3 linked regions of the Homo sapiens genome follow. The protein of the gene in region 1 purifies or fractionates together with the protein of each later gene. This does not show direct contact. Each region holds a gene or a part of one and is shown on either strand. Other genes may lie near its edges.

What was found. Proteins that work in one complex are often made in the same cells at the same time.
Region 2: the proteins of MRPS21 (region 1) and PRSS35 purify together in Homo sapiens (co-immunoprecipitation; one large-scale study listed by IntAct). This does not show direct contact.
Region 3: the proteins of MRPS21 (region 1) and PADI4 purify together in Homo sapiens (affinity purification with mass spectrometry; one large-scale study listed by BioGRID and IntAct). This does not show direct contact.

The regions. Positions count from the first base shown.
Region 1 is NC_000001.11:150,306,125-150,310,272, forward strand, and holds the end of MRPS21 (small ribosomal subunit protein bS21m), read left to right. Parts: intron 1-1,923; coding exon 1,924-2,104; 3' UTR 2,105-2,855; downstream 2,856-4,148.
Region 2 is NC_000006.12:83,515,010-83,519,847, forward strand, and holds part of PRSS35 (inactive serine protease 35 precursor), read left to right. Parts: intron 1-4,838.
Region 3 is NC_000001.11:17,306,493-17,311,810, forward strand, and holds the start of PADI4 (protein-arginine deiminase type-4), read left to right. Parts: upstream 1-1,704; 5' UTR 1,705-1,730; coding exon 1,731-1,822; intron 1,823-5,318. UniProt on the Homo sapiens protein: Catalyzes the citrullination/deimination of arginine residues of proteins such as histones, thereby playing a key role in histone code and regulation of stem cell maintenance.

The sequences.
Region 1 (4,148 bases):
GATCTGATTTATGTTTTAGGGCAATAATTGGTGTAGGAAAAGAGAGTGGAAATAGGGCAACCTACTTATTCACATTTCAGATGAGTTGTTCTTTAGGATCCCTTCACAACCACTTTCTTGTTCTCAAGTTCAGGTTTAATGCCTCCTGTGAGTTTGTTTTTGTTTTGTTTTTCCTTGAGACAAGAGTCTGTTGCCCAGGCTGGAGTGCAGTGGCACCATCTCGGCTCACTACAGCCTCCACCCCGAGTTCAAGGGATTCTCCTGCCTCAGCCTACTGAGTACAGGTGCCCACCACTACGCCTGGCTAATTTTTGTATTTTTAGTAGAGGTGGGGTTTCACCATGTTGGCCAGCCTGGTCTTGAACTCCTGACCTCAAGTGATCTTTTTGAGATGGAGTTTCACTCTTGTTGCCCAGGCTGGAGTGCAGTGGCGCAACCTTGGCTTACTGCAATCTCCGCCCCCAGGGTTCAAGCAATTCTCCTGCCTCAGCCTTCCGAGTAGCTGGGATTACAGGCATACACCACCATGCCCGGCTAATTTTGTATTTTTAGTAGAGACAGGGTTTCTCCATGTTGGTCAGGCTGGTCTCAAACTCCTGACCTCAGGTGATCCGCCCACCTCGGCCTCCCACAGTGCTGGAATTACAGGTGTGAGCCACCAGCCTGACAGGATGGAACTTTAAGTAAGAGAATCACCTTAAGAATCACCCCTAGTGATTCTGTTCTTACTGAAAATGGCTCTCCCCAGTTGAGGTCTCTGAAATGCCCCATTAGTTGAGAATCATTGCTGTAGGGAGACATGTTCTTCAGGTACTGTATCATATCCCTCAGGTGTGTTGTGGTAGAGTAGATTTGAGAACATAACTTTGACTATAAACTCTCCAAGAGCAAGGGCCATGTAATTAATTGCTTTTTTATTTCCCCAATTTTTTTTTTTTGAGACAAGAGTCTCACTCTGTTGCCCAGGCTGGAGTGCAGTGGTGCAATCTCAGCTCACTGCAACCTCCACCTCCTAGGTTCAAACACTTCTCCTGCCTGCCTCCTGAGTAGCTGGGAGGGACTATAGGCGCCCGCCATCATGCCCAGCTAATTTTTGTATTTTTAGTAGAGACGGGGTTTCACCATATTGGTCAGGCTGGTCTCGAACTCCCGACCTCAGGTGATCCACCTGCCTCGGCTTCCCGAAGTGCTAGGATTACAGGCATGAGTCACTGTGCCCAGTCCTTTTTTTTTTTTTTTTTTTTTTCCTTTGAGTCAAGGTGTCACTCTGTTGTCCAGGCTGGAATGCAGTGGTAGGATCTCAGCTCACTGCAGCCATGAACTCCCAGGTTCAATTGATCCTCCCACCTCAGCCTCCTGAGTAGAGGGGACTACAGGCATGTACCACCATGCCTGGTTAATGTTTGTATTATTTGCAGAGACGGGGTTTTGCCGTGTTGCCCATGCTGAACAATATTTTTTTTCTTTTTTGAGACAGGGTCTTATTCTGTCACCCAGGCTGGAGTACACTGGTGCAAACACAGCACACTGCAGCCTCAGTCTCCCCTGGGCTCAAGTGATGCTCCCACCTCAGCCTCGTGAGTCGCTAGCACTACAGACACATATTACGAAGCCTGGCTAATTATTTTTATTTTTTGTAGAAACAGGGTTTTGCCATGTTGCCTAGGCTGGTCTCAAACTCCTGGGCTCAATCTGCTCACCTTGGGCTCCCAGGGTGGTGGGATTACAGGCATGAGCCACTGCACCCGGCCCACAGATTCTTATTGAGGCCTTTGTAAGTAGGCAGTTAATGCTCTATTGCCACCATTTCCCACTGTATTTTTTATAAATACCAATTGTTTGGTCAATCGACTTCTATTTATGAAACTGGAAAAGAATAATGATGATCCCAAATGTCTAACCTCATTGCTTGCCTTTATACAGAATCCTCACTATGGATGGGCTCATTGAGGACATTAAGCATCGGCGGTATTATGAGAAGCCATGCTGCCGGCGACAGAGGGAAAGCTATGAAAGGTGCCGGCGGATCTACAACATGGAAATGGCTCGCAAGATCAACTTCTTGATGCGAAAGAATCGGGCAGATCCGTGGCAGGGCTGCTGAGGCCTGTGGGTGGGACACCCAGTGCGAAACCCTCATCCAGTTTTCTCTCCATCTCTTTTCTTTGTACAATCCCATTTCCTATTACCATTCTCTGCAATAAACTCAAATCACATGTCTGCAAGAAGGCCTCCAAATATAGAAACAATCCCATTAGTCAGCAGTGGACCCTGTCTTTTATTAAGTGAAAGAAGAAACTGAGTCTGAAAGTACTCTAGGAGTAGAATGGTATTTGCCAGGGACTGGAGGAGGGGGCAGTGAGGAGTTATTGTTTAATGGGTACAGAGTTTCAGTTTGGGCAGATGAAAAAGTTCAGGAGACGATGGCCTGGCATGGTGGCTCACGCCTGTTATCCCAACACTTTGGGAGGCTGAGGCGGGCGGCTCACTTGAGGCCAGGAGTTTGAGACCAGCTTGGCCAATGTGGTGAAACCCCATCTCTACTAAAAATACAAAAAAAAATTGGCCGGGCGTGGTGGTGCACGCCTGTAATCCCAGATACTTGGGTGGCTGAGGCAGGAGAATTGCTTGAACTGGGGAGGAAGAGGTTGCAGTGAGCCAAGATCATGCCACTGCACTCCAACCTGGGCGACAGAGTGAGACTCCATCTCAAAACAAAAAAACGGAGATGGATGATGAATGGTGATGGCGGTTGCTCAAAAAGTTGAATGTACTTAATGCCACTGAACTATACCCTTAAATGGTCACGATGGTAAATTTTGTGTTTTACTACAATAAAAACTTTTTTGAAAGTCCAGGAGAAGTAAGGAATTTTTTTTTCTTTTTTTTAAGAGGAAGTCTCGCTCTTGTCCCCCAGACTGGAGTGCAATGGTGCAGTCTAGGCTCACTGCAACCTCCGCCTCCTGGGTTCAAGTGATTCTCCTGCCTCAGCCTCCCCAGAAGCTGGGACTACAGGCACCTGCCACCACGCCCAGCTAATTTTTGTATTTTTAGTAGAGACGGGGTTTCACCATGTTGTCCAGGCTGGTCTCGAACTCCTGACCTCAGGTGATCCGCCCACCTCGGCCTCCCAAAGTGCTGGGATTATGGGCATGAGCCACCATACCTGGCTGGTAAATTTTTTTTTTTTTTTTGTAGATGGAGTCTCGCTCTGTTGCCCAGGCTGGAGGGCAGTGGGACAATCTCAGCTCACTGCAAGCTCCGCCGCCTGGGTTCACGCCATTCTCCTGCCTCAGCCTCCCCAGCAGCTGGGACTACAGGCACACGCCGCCACGCCCGGCTAATTTTTGTGTTTTTAGTAGAGATGGGGTTTATCTGTGTTAGCCAGGATAGTCTCGATCTCCTGGTCTCGTGATCCCCCTGCCTTGGCCTCCCAAAGTGTTGGGATTACAGGCGTGAGCCACTGCGCCCGGCCGGAAAATTTTTTTAATGTAGTGAAATATGTCTACCATTTCCTACCCAATTTTTTTGAATCCCCAAGCAAAATCTTACTGAGAAAGCATCTATTACTTTTTATTAAACTGTTCCATGTTAGGTAGAGAGGAGAAGATGCATGTATGTATTTGGAATAAATTCTGCTTCTGAAAACACCTATCAACCAGACTAGAGTGCTGGAATCCTTGCCCAAAGAAATTCTTAAATCTACCCTAATGTTCATTCCTGTTTTCTGTCCTTTTAGTTTTCCTAACAGAGACTAAGAGAGGGATGGTGGAGAAGAAATAAAGCAATAGATGGGTGGGACTCAGTAGATAGTAGGAAAGAGGGAATGGAGCGTTGAGAGAGAATGGCACAGAGCCAGAAATACCCACAAAGCAGTGCTTCTCAAAGTGTCAGATCAGCAGCATCAATTTCACCAGAGGGATTGCTTGAAATGCAAATTATGGGACCCTACTTTAGATCTTCGATATTGGAAATTGAGGTTGGAGCCCAGCAATCTATTTTCACAAGCCTTGCAGGTGATTCTGATGCCTGCTAGAGTTACAACCACTGCCCTTTGCAGTACTCAAAGAGACTTCAAGTGGAGGTTCCCACCATCACTGCCTCTACCCAGCAGTCACTCCTGATTATTTTACTCTTGACAGCTGCGG
Region 2 (4,838 bases), on another chromosome or scaffold:
ACATTTTAAATACCTGCGTTAGATTTGCCATCACCAGGCTAATTTTGCCATCTAGTGGTAGCAACATGGATAACAGGCAAGTTCTTCCCTGGATGACTAGGAATTGAACCTTCCTGAGAAGCATTGATGAGTAAATTACTTGTGTTTTCTCATTTGTGGTTTACTCTAGAACTTTAAAGCTGGAAGAAATCTTAGAAATGTTCTAGTCCAACTCAACAGTTAAGGACTATCAGAGAGATTCTTTAAAATAAAGGCTTCGAAATGCATGGCGGAGTTAGCAGGTGGTATGCATTTGTTGAATAGACAAATTTATCTATCCTGTTCTAATTCTTGTTTTTCCTCTAGCAATATTGCATCCTACCACTATGAAGTTTTATCGTGATCTTCTGTTTTTAGTTTTAAAATTGCATTTCTGTATATTATTTCTTAAAATAACACATTTTCATTTATATTTTAAGTCCCAGAAGGAAACATTCTTTTCTACTGTTTTTGTTTGTTTGCTTTGAGACAGGGTTGCCCTGTCTCATTCTAGTTGTCCAGGCTGGAGTGTAGTGACACAATCACAGCTCACTGCAGCGTCCACCTCCCAGCTTAGGTGATCCTCCCAACTCAGCCCAGAGTAGCTGGGACCACAGGCATGCGCCACCACACTTGTAGAGACAGGGTCTCCCTATGTTGCCCAGGCTACTCTCAAACTCCTGGACTCAAGTGATCCTCCCATCCCAGCCTCCCAAAGTGCTAGGATTACAGGTGTGAGGCACCGCGCCCGGCCCTTTTCTACTTTTTAATCACTCCCTACTACTACTACTTCTCTTTTCTTTTTTTTGACGGAGTCTCGCTCTGTTGCCCAGGCTGGAGTGCAATGGCGTGATCTCACCTCACTGCAACCTCTGCCTCCCGGTTCAGGGGATTCTCCTGCCTCAGCCTCCCCAGTAGCTGGGATTACAGGTACACAACAGCATGCCTGGCTAATTTTTGTATTTTTAGCAGAGACGGGGTTTCACCACGTTGGCCAGGCTGGTCTGGAACTCCTCACCTCAAGTGATCCGCCCACCTAGGCCTCCCAAACTGCTGGGATTACAGGTGTGAGCCACAGCCTCCGCCACTCCCTACTACTACTTTCTTTCTAAACAGTCAGGCAGACTGTTGTAAAAACTCGATTCTCACCTTTGTAAGTGTAGCAGTTTCCTACTGCTGCTGTAACAAATTACCGAAAACTCAGTGGTTTAAAACAACACAAATTTATTATCTTATGCATCTGGAGATCAGAAATCTAAAGTTTTGGCTGGGCACGGTGGCTCACGCCTGTAATCCCAGCACTTTGGGAGGCCGAGATGGGCGGATCACGAGGTCAGGAGATCGAGACCATCCTGGCCAACACGGTGACACCCCATCTCTACTAAAAATACAAAAAAAATTAGCCGGGCATGGTGGCGGGCGCCTGTAGTCCCAGCTACTGGGGAGGCTGAGGCTGAAGAATGGCGTGAACCTGGGAGGCGGAGCTTGCAGTGAGCCGAGATCACGCCATTGCACTCTAGCCTGGGCGACTGAGAGAGACTGCGTCTCAAAAAAAAAAAAAAAAAAAAGAAATCTGAAGTTGTATTGTGATCTTCTGTTTTTAGTTTTAAATTATATTTCTTCATATTTTTCTTAAAACAACACATTTTCATTTATGTTCCTCCTTCTGGAAGTTCTAGGAAATAATTTTCCTTACCTTTTTCAGCATCTAGAGGCCACTCATATTCCTCAGCTCATGATCCTGCATTGCTCTGGCCTCCGCTTACATCTATCAGCTCTTCCCACTCTTAACCCGTCTGCCTCCTTCTTATATGAGCCCCTATGATTGCATTGGACCCACCTGGATAACCCAGAATAACCACTTCACCTTAAAATCCTTAATGTAATCGTATTTGTAAAGTCTCTTTTCTTGTGTGTGGGAAATATTCACAGGTCCTGGGGATGAGGATATTTGGCATACCACAATGAGGCAGTTAGAGATGTATGAAATACCTTGTAAATATCTACCTGAGTGTTGGCTCCCCCTGTTTGATATGAAAAACATTGGCTTTAATCTTTGTGGAGTGCTTACTGTGCTCTGGGCATTGTGCTTATCATATTAGTTTCTCACAAAAATATTCTCAAATATTATCTCTATCTAATAAATGTGGGAAATAATGTCTAGAGAGATTAGGTAACCTTCACAAGATCACAGTGTAACAAGTGGCAAGTGTACTTAAGGTTGATTTGGCTTCAAAGCCCACTGCCCCCATAATCATTGAAACACCCTAGTTCTTACTCCCCTTTTTTATTACGTTACAGACACTGTTATTTTCTCATACACTCTCTAAATTAAATGTTACCTCCATGTAGTGCTGCTGTCAGGGAGCGCCTCAGTGGATCAGGAATTAGTTTTCATAAGATACCCCCTCTCCTCAGCATCTGTTCCCCCAAATAAAACTGACTATGAAAGTTTTTACAATTGTCATCCAAAACATCACCGCTTTCTTTAGTGCTTGCTTTATTCCTGTTTATGTCACTTGTAATTCTCCCCCTCTCCTGCTGTGGCCTTTTGCCTAAGCCATTTCTCTCTGCAGTTATTCAGAATCATCTGGCCAGGCCCCAGTGTCTCCCTGTTGTGTGTCAATCCTGAGTAGGTGGAGGATGAAAGTAGAGGAGGAAATGAGGGCATGTCTTCACATTTAGGTATGCATGTAAACAGAGCCAGTGGTGTTAGGAAGCACAGGTGGTTGGGATTGCAGATGGCTAAATAGAGGACAGCCAAGTTTTAAAAGGTGGTCATGCAATCATTGGTGTGTACTAACATACACACTAAAGTAGAGGGTGGTGTTGGCCCTATGGGGTCATTGATATGACTGAGTAATTCCTGACCCACAGCAGCCTCCCAGGAACTGTTTGATGGATCAATGCAAAGTTGTGTCCCATGGCAACATGCTATGTACATAAATATGGACAAGTACCTCACTAGACATTACAAGGAACCAGGTGAAAAGAAAGGCATAAGTAATTGTGAATCTGTCACCTAGTGAGGGAAAGCAATTCAATGCAGGTCCTTCAATGGTAAGTCAGCATCTTTGCTTTCTCATAGACAGGAAAAATAATTGATTTGAAATATTAATATAGTGGGCAGCCATCTAATCTTTCATTAGTTTGTCTGCTCTATCTAAGCTAGACTATAAACTTCTAGGGTAAAAAACAAAACACAAAAGAGAAACTGAGCCTTAAGGTATAATGTCATTTCATCATAGGATTCTATATACTCTAGATAGACTCACTCAAAAAGTTGTTTTTTTTTCATTGTAGATCACTCCCTTAGAGTAATTATGTTGACATAGACTCTGTTTCTTTTTAGGCTGAGGGTCTGATGCAGTTCCAAAATTCCCAGTGTAGATCCAGGCTATAAATAAGACACAGAAAATGCAATTTAAGTGTTTTGTGGCTGCATAGTGTTTAATCACACTTAAGTTTAATAGCAATGAGAAAAATATATTACAGAGCCATGGATATTCATAGAAATGAGTAATTAGGAAAGCATTCATTTGGGAAGTCTCTAAAGTGAAGCTGTCCTTGAACGAAAAACAAAACAAAGAAAAAGCGAATTTTAGAGTGAGTTGGAAACTATCTTGAAATAAAAATATTTGACTGTAAAACTGACTTTTTAGAAAACTACAAGATCTCTAATTTTGGCTTATATAACAACCTGTTTTGAAGTGATACAAATTCACCAATTAAGGTAGGATAATAATTATAAAATAACATGTGTTAACTACTTACTATCCTCTGGGCTCAGTAGTAATTCTTTGCGTGTATCATCTCATTTAATCTCCATAACAATGTTATGAAGTCGAAATTACTATAATATTATCCCCACTTTGCAGATGAGGAAAGTGAAACTTGGAGAGTTAATGAACTGCCCACATGCACATGCCTCATAAGTGGTGAAAAGGGAATTGAACCCAAGCCTTCCCACTCCTTGGTCTGCACTCATAACCACTATGCTGGTACAGATACACAAATATTCTCAACGCTGTCAGCAATCACATTTCTAAGAAACTATAAACAAATAACAAAAGGGTAATAGTAAGTGATCTCGTAGTCAAGTGTGGTCACTTCTATTAATAGATTGGGTACAAATGTGTAATTACATCTCTTCCATCAGTAAGAGTTCATCTACATACACAGATATTCTTACTTCTTCCTTAATTCCCTTCTACTCAATCTGTCTTCAGGATCCAGCCCATAATCAGCTGTGTGTATGCTGACTCACAGTGGTGGGCAGCAATCACTGCAACTTTGCTTTCATTAACCAAAATTGGAATTTGAAGCCCCAAATGCAAGCCATCTGGAAATGGACAGTGAAGGTCACAGTTATATTGGAAGACAGGAAAAATGAGGGGGATGGGGAAGCCAAGGGATGTTAGACTTTCAAAATATTATAGCTGCCCCTTCAACTGGGACTGTGTCTTTTTAGATCAATGAGTTAGTCCTTTTTGGATAATGGGCATATGTAGATGTCTCCACTGAACAAACTGTGGATTGCTCTATCAGTAAGAGCTATCATTTATGCCACATTGACATTTTACCACAAGACAAACTTAGATTTTCCAAAAGAAAGTGTCTTTAAACATTTGCCCAATTTTAAATTACAGGCCAAATTAGGCTAACTAAATCCATGTCCTCTTATTACTGTGATTCTGAGGTCATATTACAAAGCTCTGCCCTTCCCATACCCAAGGGTAGACGTGGGCATGGTTTTTATTCCTGTGGTACACTGCACAGAGCTCCCTCAAAGGGCACCAGGCAGGGCTGGTGAACCAATG
Region 3 (5,318 bases), about 130 Mb from region 1:
TGGGCAGGTCCCACTCCCTTTCTGTGCTTCAGTCTCCCCTTCTGCAAAACGAGGACTGGATTGGGTGTTCTCTAAGGGCCCTCCCAACTCTAACAATGGACAGCTCCCTCCTGCCACTTCCCAGTAGAAGCTCAAACTAGTTCTAATCATGCGGTCAGCCAGAGAAATTGGGTTTATTAACACTGTGTGCAGGCAGTCATGTAGATGCGTCAGAACGTCGGACCTGGCCACATCATCATCTGCTGGTACAGAAGATAAATTTTGAGCCCAGAGAAGGTGGTCTGAATCCAGATCCCCACTGTAGGGCTTATGAGACCTTGGGGGTCTCACTCAATCTCTCTAAGTCTTTGTGGTCTCATCTACACATGGGCATCCTGATAGGACGCACTCCATAGGGATGTTGAGATGAGGCAGGATTTGAACTAAAGCCTGTTTGATCCCACAGCCTGACTCTGAATTAATGAGGCAAATTCTTTGCTTCAAAGCCAAAGCAAGCAAACAAAAAACAAACGCAAGATATCCAACCCACGAAACGCTCTATGTTCACGCCAGACTCCCATGCATGCACCCTTTGAGTGCTCCTTGTTGGGACCCATCCACCACCCCCCAGTTGCCTCATTAAAGGCAGAGCCTGGCACCAATGGCCCAGGTGCAACCACAGCTCTGAGGCCACATGGGCATCCCCCTGGCAGGCGTGGCCCACACCTGCACTGTCTGGTCTGACACCCAGAGGCCCTGGCAAGAGGCAGGTATCCTGGAGCATGCAGAGAACATCAACTTCCATGCCAGGAAGCTCATCTTCTCTTCCCAGCTCTGCCGCATTCTAGCTCTGGCACCTTGGGCAAGAGCTAGTCACTTTTACTCTCTGAGCCTCAATTTTCCTTCTGTAAAATGGGTTGTAATAATAAGCCCATATACACCTTGTATTGTAGCGAGATGTAGCTGTGATACAGTCTGGAAAGCACGTGTCATATAGACAGGCAGCTAATGAATCTCACACTCTGGAACTGGACACCTTTGGTTCCAATTCTGGCCCTACCACTCTCGAGCTGTGGAAGAACTGCACCTCTGTTTTCTCCTCTGTAAAATGGGTATAATAATGGCACCAACCTCAGAGGGCTGCTGTGAGGGTGAAATAAGGGGATAATGGTATGATCTAGTTCACGGGTTTGTCGTAATGAGCTATTCTATGTGAAGTGCAGGAAAACGTGCCTGGCATAGAGAATGTGAGCTGTCATGTGGGTGGCCCAGGTGGAGAGACTTGTCCCAAGCCTGGTTGGTCTTTGAACGTGTAGCCTGGCCTGTGACTGCTTACCTAAAATCTCCCCGCTTTTCCCACCTTCTCCTCTCTGATATGCCTGTTTGACATAGGTGAGATTGGATAGATCAAGGTGTTCAGGGCCTCTAGGCAGGGATGGGACTGTGGGCATGAGGACCAGGACCCAACCCCTCAGCCCCACTCTCCACCCCAGGCTTTCTGAGCCATCCATCCTTCCCAAGAAACTGACAGAGCCACCCTGCCACTGGTACCAGCATTGACACCCATCTAGAGGTCCGAGGGGCAGCCCCAGGGCAGAGGAGATTTTGAGAGCCCACACCCCTGACCTGAGTGGGGAGGGGTTGAGCCTCTGGGCCACAGACCGCAGGTGCTGACTCATGGCCTCTGCTGGGCGATATAAAGGAACCAGCCCAGGGGCTTCCTACAGCCAGAGGGACGAGCTAGCCCGACGATGGCCCAGGGGACATTGATCCGTGTGACCCCAGAGCAGCCCACCCATGCCGTGTGTGTGCTGGGCACCTTGACTCAGCTTGACATCTGCAGGTAAGAGGGGGGCCTTCTGGGGTTTTGGAGGCAGGTCAGGAGATGCTGGATGACCCAGTTCTACTGACACAGGAGCATGTGTTTGGCCCAGGCTCTAGGCTCCAGCCTCTGCAGCCACTGCCAGGGGAGTAGCTGGAGAGAGAAGACCCCAGCAGCCCTGGGAAGTGCCAGTCTCATGGCTGTGGGTTCTTTGCCATGTACAAGTGCAAATTCCCCAGGAACACACGACAGATAAATTATTATGGGGCAAACCAGGCCATCCATCTCCCTGTCTTCATCGAGGCAACAGAAGCTTACAGAGAGTCTGTGACTTGCTCAAGGTCACACAGCACGTGTGCCCTGGAAGTAAGGTTAGCCCCTGGGCCTCCTGGTTCACAGCACAGTTTGTTACCCCACATCTCTTAGCTAAGCCTCCCTCAGTGGGTGCATAATAGCGTGGGTGGGGATGGCGAAACGGGGCTCTGTGGCGGCAGAGACTGAGGTAGGAAGCCTGGACCTGCTGCTGGCTAGCAAGGAGGCCTTGGGCAACTGAGCCTCAGTTGCCTCATCTGTGAAATGGGGATAATACTCACATCATGGGCTGGTTATAGGAATTCAATGTGAAAAAATGTGCAGATGTTGGCTGAGTACTTAGCACAGTGGTGGGCCCATCCTTGGTAGTTTTTATTTACTCATTTAACAAATGCTGAGTGCCATGCTCTGTGGCAGGGTCTGGGTTAAACAAGAGAGTTGAGGAATGCTCTCGGGGAGTGTGCAGGGTCATTGTTGTTATTGTAGAACAGGAATTAAAAGAAATTTTAAAACGTGTAAGCAAAAACTCAGTTCTATGTTAAAAAAAAAAAAAACAATTTTCCCTGGAAAAAAAAAAAAAAAAGAGCTGGAGTCCCTTAAAAATTAACTGCCTGTTTTTTTGTGGCTAGTGAGCCTTATTGCTCCTCTTTTTCCAGGCATTGTAAAGACCCTGTTTCTCCAGCTGTGCAGCTGCAAGGTCACTAGACAGATAAACTCAAGCTGTAAAAATTTTTTTCCTTAAAAAGTAAAAAATAATATAATGCATGTCTCAATTAAATAACTGTCTTTGTTTCTTGCCTCTATAATATGCTTCCCCCTGCACAGATCTACCCCCGCCCCATGAAATGCTTAAAAGATAACTTAACTCTTTGTTCAGGGCTCAGTCTTTTGAAATGTTAGCCTGACTGAGCCAGTGAATCTAAATAATAAATCCTCCTCAACCCCTCGGTCTCTCTGATTCCTAAATTATCCTGCAACAATTGCTGTTGTCAGGAATAGGAGTGGTTGCCCCTGGCTTCCCCATCCCAGTCTGGGCATCGGTGGCCCTAGAATGGTGCCCACAGGAGTGCCGGGGACATTTCTTTGCTACTGCCTGAGCCCCAGCAGCCAGAGAACAGCAGGAAATGTCGGGATGGTCTCCCAGGGCCACATGGTGGAGGCAGGAGACCAAGAAGTTGGGGAGAAAAGGAAAAAGAAAATCACCTGACATCATCTGAGGCGCCCCCAACTCCTCTGAGAATGGGTGTGAAGGAAATGACAGGAGCTGAAGCTAGCCCAGGGCCTCTCCCAGCATGCCCAGGCTAGCCCTCTACCCAGCGTCCATGAGTAGTAATCAAGATCACAAGTGCTTCCTCTGGCCCTAGAGAGGTGGGTGGACAGCTGGTCAGTGTTGGGCAGAGAGGAAGGCACTGCCCATTTCTCCCAGAAAGGATGGGGACTCCGGAGTTCACAGGGGCCTCTAAATCCTTCTTTTCTCCTCCTTCAGCCACACGTTGAGCCTGTCACTCTATCCCCTGAACATCTCACGTAACAATGGCTAATATTTACATCACACTTCCTACATTCAACTCATTCAATGGCCTTGGGAGGCAGGTAATGTTGTTATTCCCATTTTACAAAAGAGGAAACAGAGGCTCCAAGAAGTTAAGTAACCCACCTCAAGCCACACAGCTAATAAGTAGGGGAGCCAGGACTCAACCCAGGCAGCCTGACTCTAGGACCCTCCATTCTCCCCATGGGTCTCCGTTCCAGACCTTCCTGTCACTTCTTATCTGTTCTTAACATAGCCCCAGACAGCGCCTCCCTCCCATCTCCTGAGCAGCCATCGGCCTCTTCCTGAACCACACAGGTGGGAGGGCCACTCCCTCCTCACCTCCGCCCCTCATATTCATGCCTCCATAACTTTGCTCAAGCCATTCTCTCTGTCCCCAAAGTCAGGAACCCGGGAGGCAGAGGTTGCAGTGAGCCAAGATTGGGCTAGTGCACTCCAGCCTGGGTGACAGAGTAAGACTCTGTCTCAAAAAAAAAGAGGCAAAAACACCTAACCGAGGGTCACATAAATTAAAGGTGGCAAGCTGGGCACGGTGGCTTATGCCTGTAATCCCAGCACTTTGAGAGGCCAAGATGGGCAAATCACTTGTGGTCAGAATTTCGAGACCAGCCTGGCCAACATGGGGAAACCCCGTCTCTACTAAAAATACAAAAAAATTAGACGGGGCGCAATGGCTCACATCTGTAATCCCAGCACTTTGGGAGGCCGAGGCAGGCGGATCACAAGGTCAGGAGATCGAGACCATCCTGGCTAACATGGTGAAACGCCGTCTCTACTAAAAATACAAAAATTAGCCGGGCGTGGTAGCACGCAGCTATAGTCCCAGCTACTTGGGAGGCTGAGGCAGGAGAATCGCTTGAACCCAGGAGGCGGACGCTGCAGTGAACCGAGATTGTGCCACTGAACTCCAGCCTGGGCAACACAGTGAGTCTCCGTCTCAAAAAAAAAAAAAAAAATTAGATGGGAGTAGTGGCACATGCCTGTAATCTCAACTACTCAGGAGGCTGAGGCACAAGAGTTGCTTGAACCTGGGAGGTGGAGGTTGCAGTGAGGCAAGATTGCACCACTGCACTCCAGCAAGGGCAACAGAGTGAGACTCTGTCTCAAAAAAAAAAAAGTTAAAGGTGGCAAAGCCAGGACTGTCTGACCCTAAACCCACCCTGCTTCGCAGCCCACCCTGCCTCCAAATGCTGGGGAGTGGACTCCCCTGGGCACTGCTCCCTGTGGGCAGAGCTCATTCAACTTCCAAAGGATTTGGTAAAGGCCTAGAAGGGGTGGGGGTCCAGGAGGTGCCAACTGCAAAGGGCAGTGTGCATTCAGAAGCTGCCATCTATGGTCTCTCTTCTTCCTCCCAAAGTCTCCTTCTTCTTTTTTTTTTTTTTAAAAACGGAGTCTCGCTCTGTCCAGCCCAGGCTGGAGTGCAGTGGCAAGATCTTGGCTCACCGCAAGCTCCACCTCCCGGGTTCACGCAATTCTCCTGCCTCAGCCTCCCCAGTAGCTGGGACTACAGGCGCCTGCCACCATGCCTGGCTAATTTTTTTGTATTTTCAGTAGAGACGGTGTTTCACCGTGTTAGCCAGGATGGTCTCGATCTCCTGACCTCGTGATCCACCCGCCTCGGCCTCCCAAAGTGCTGGGATTACAGGCTTGAGC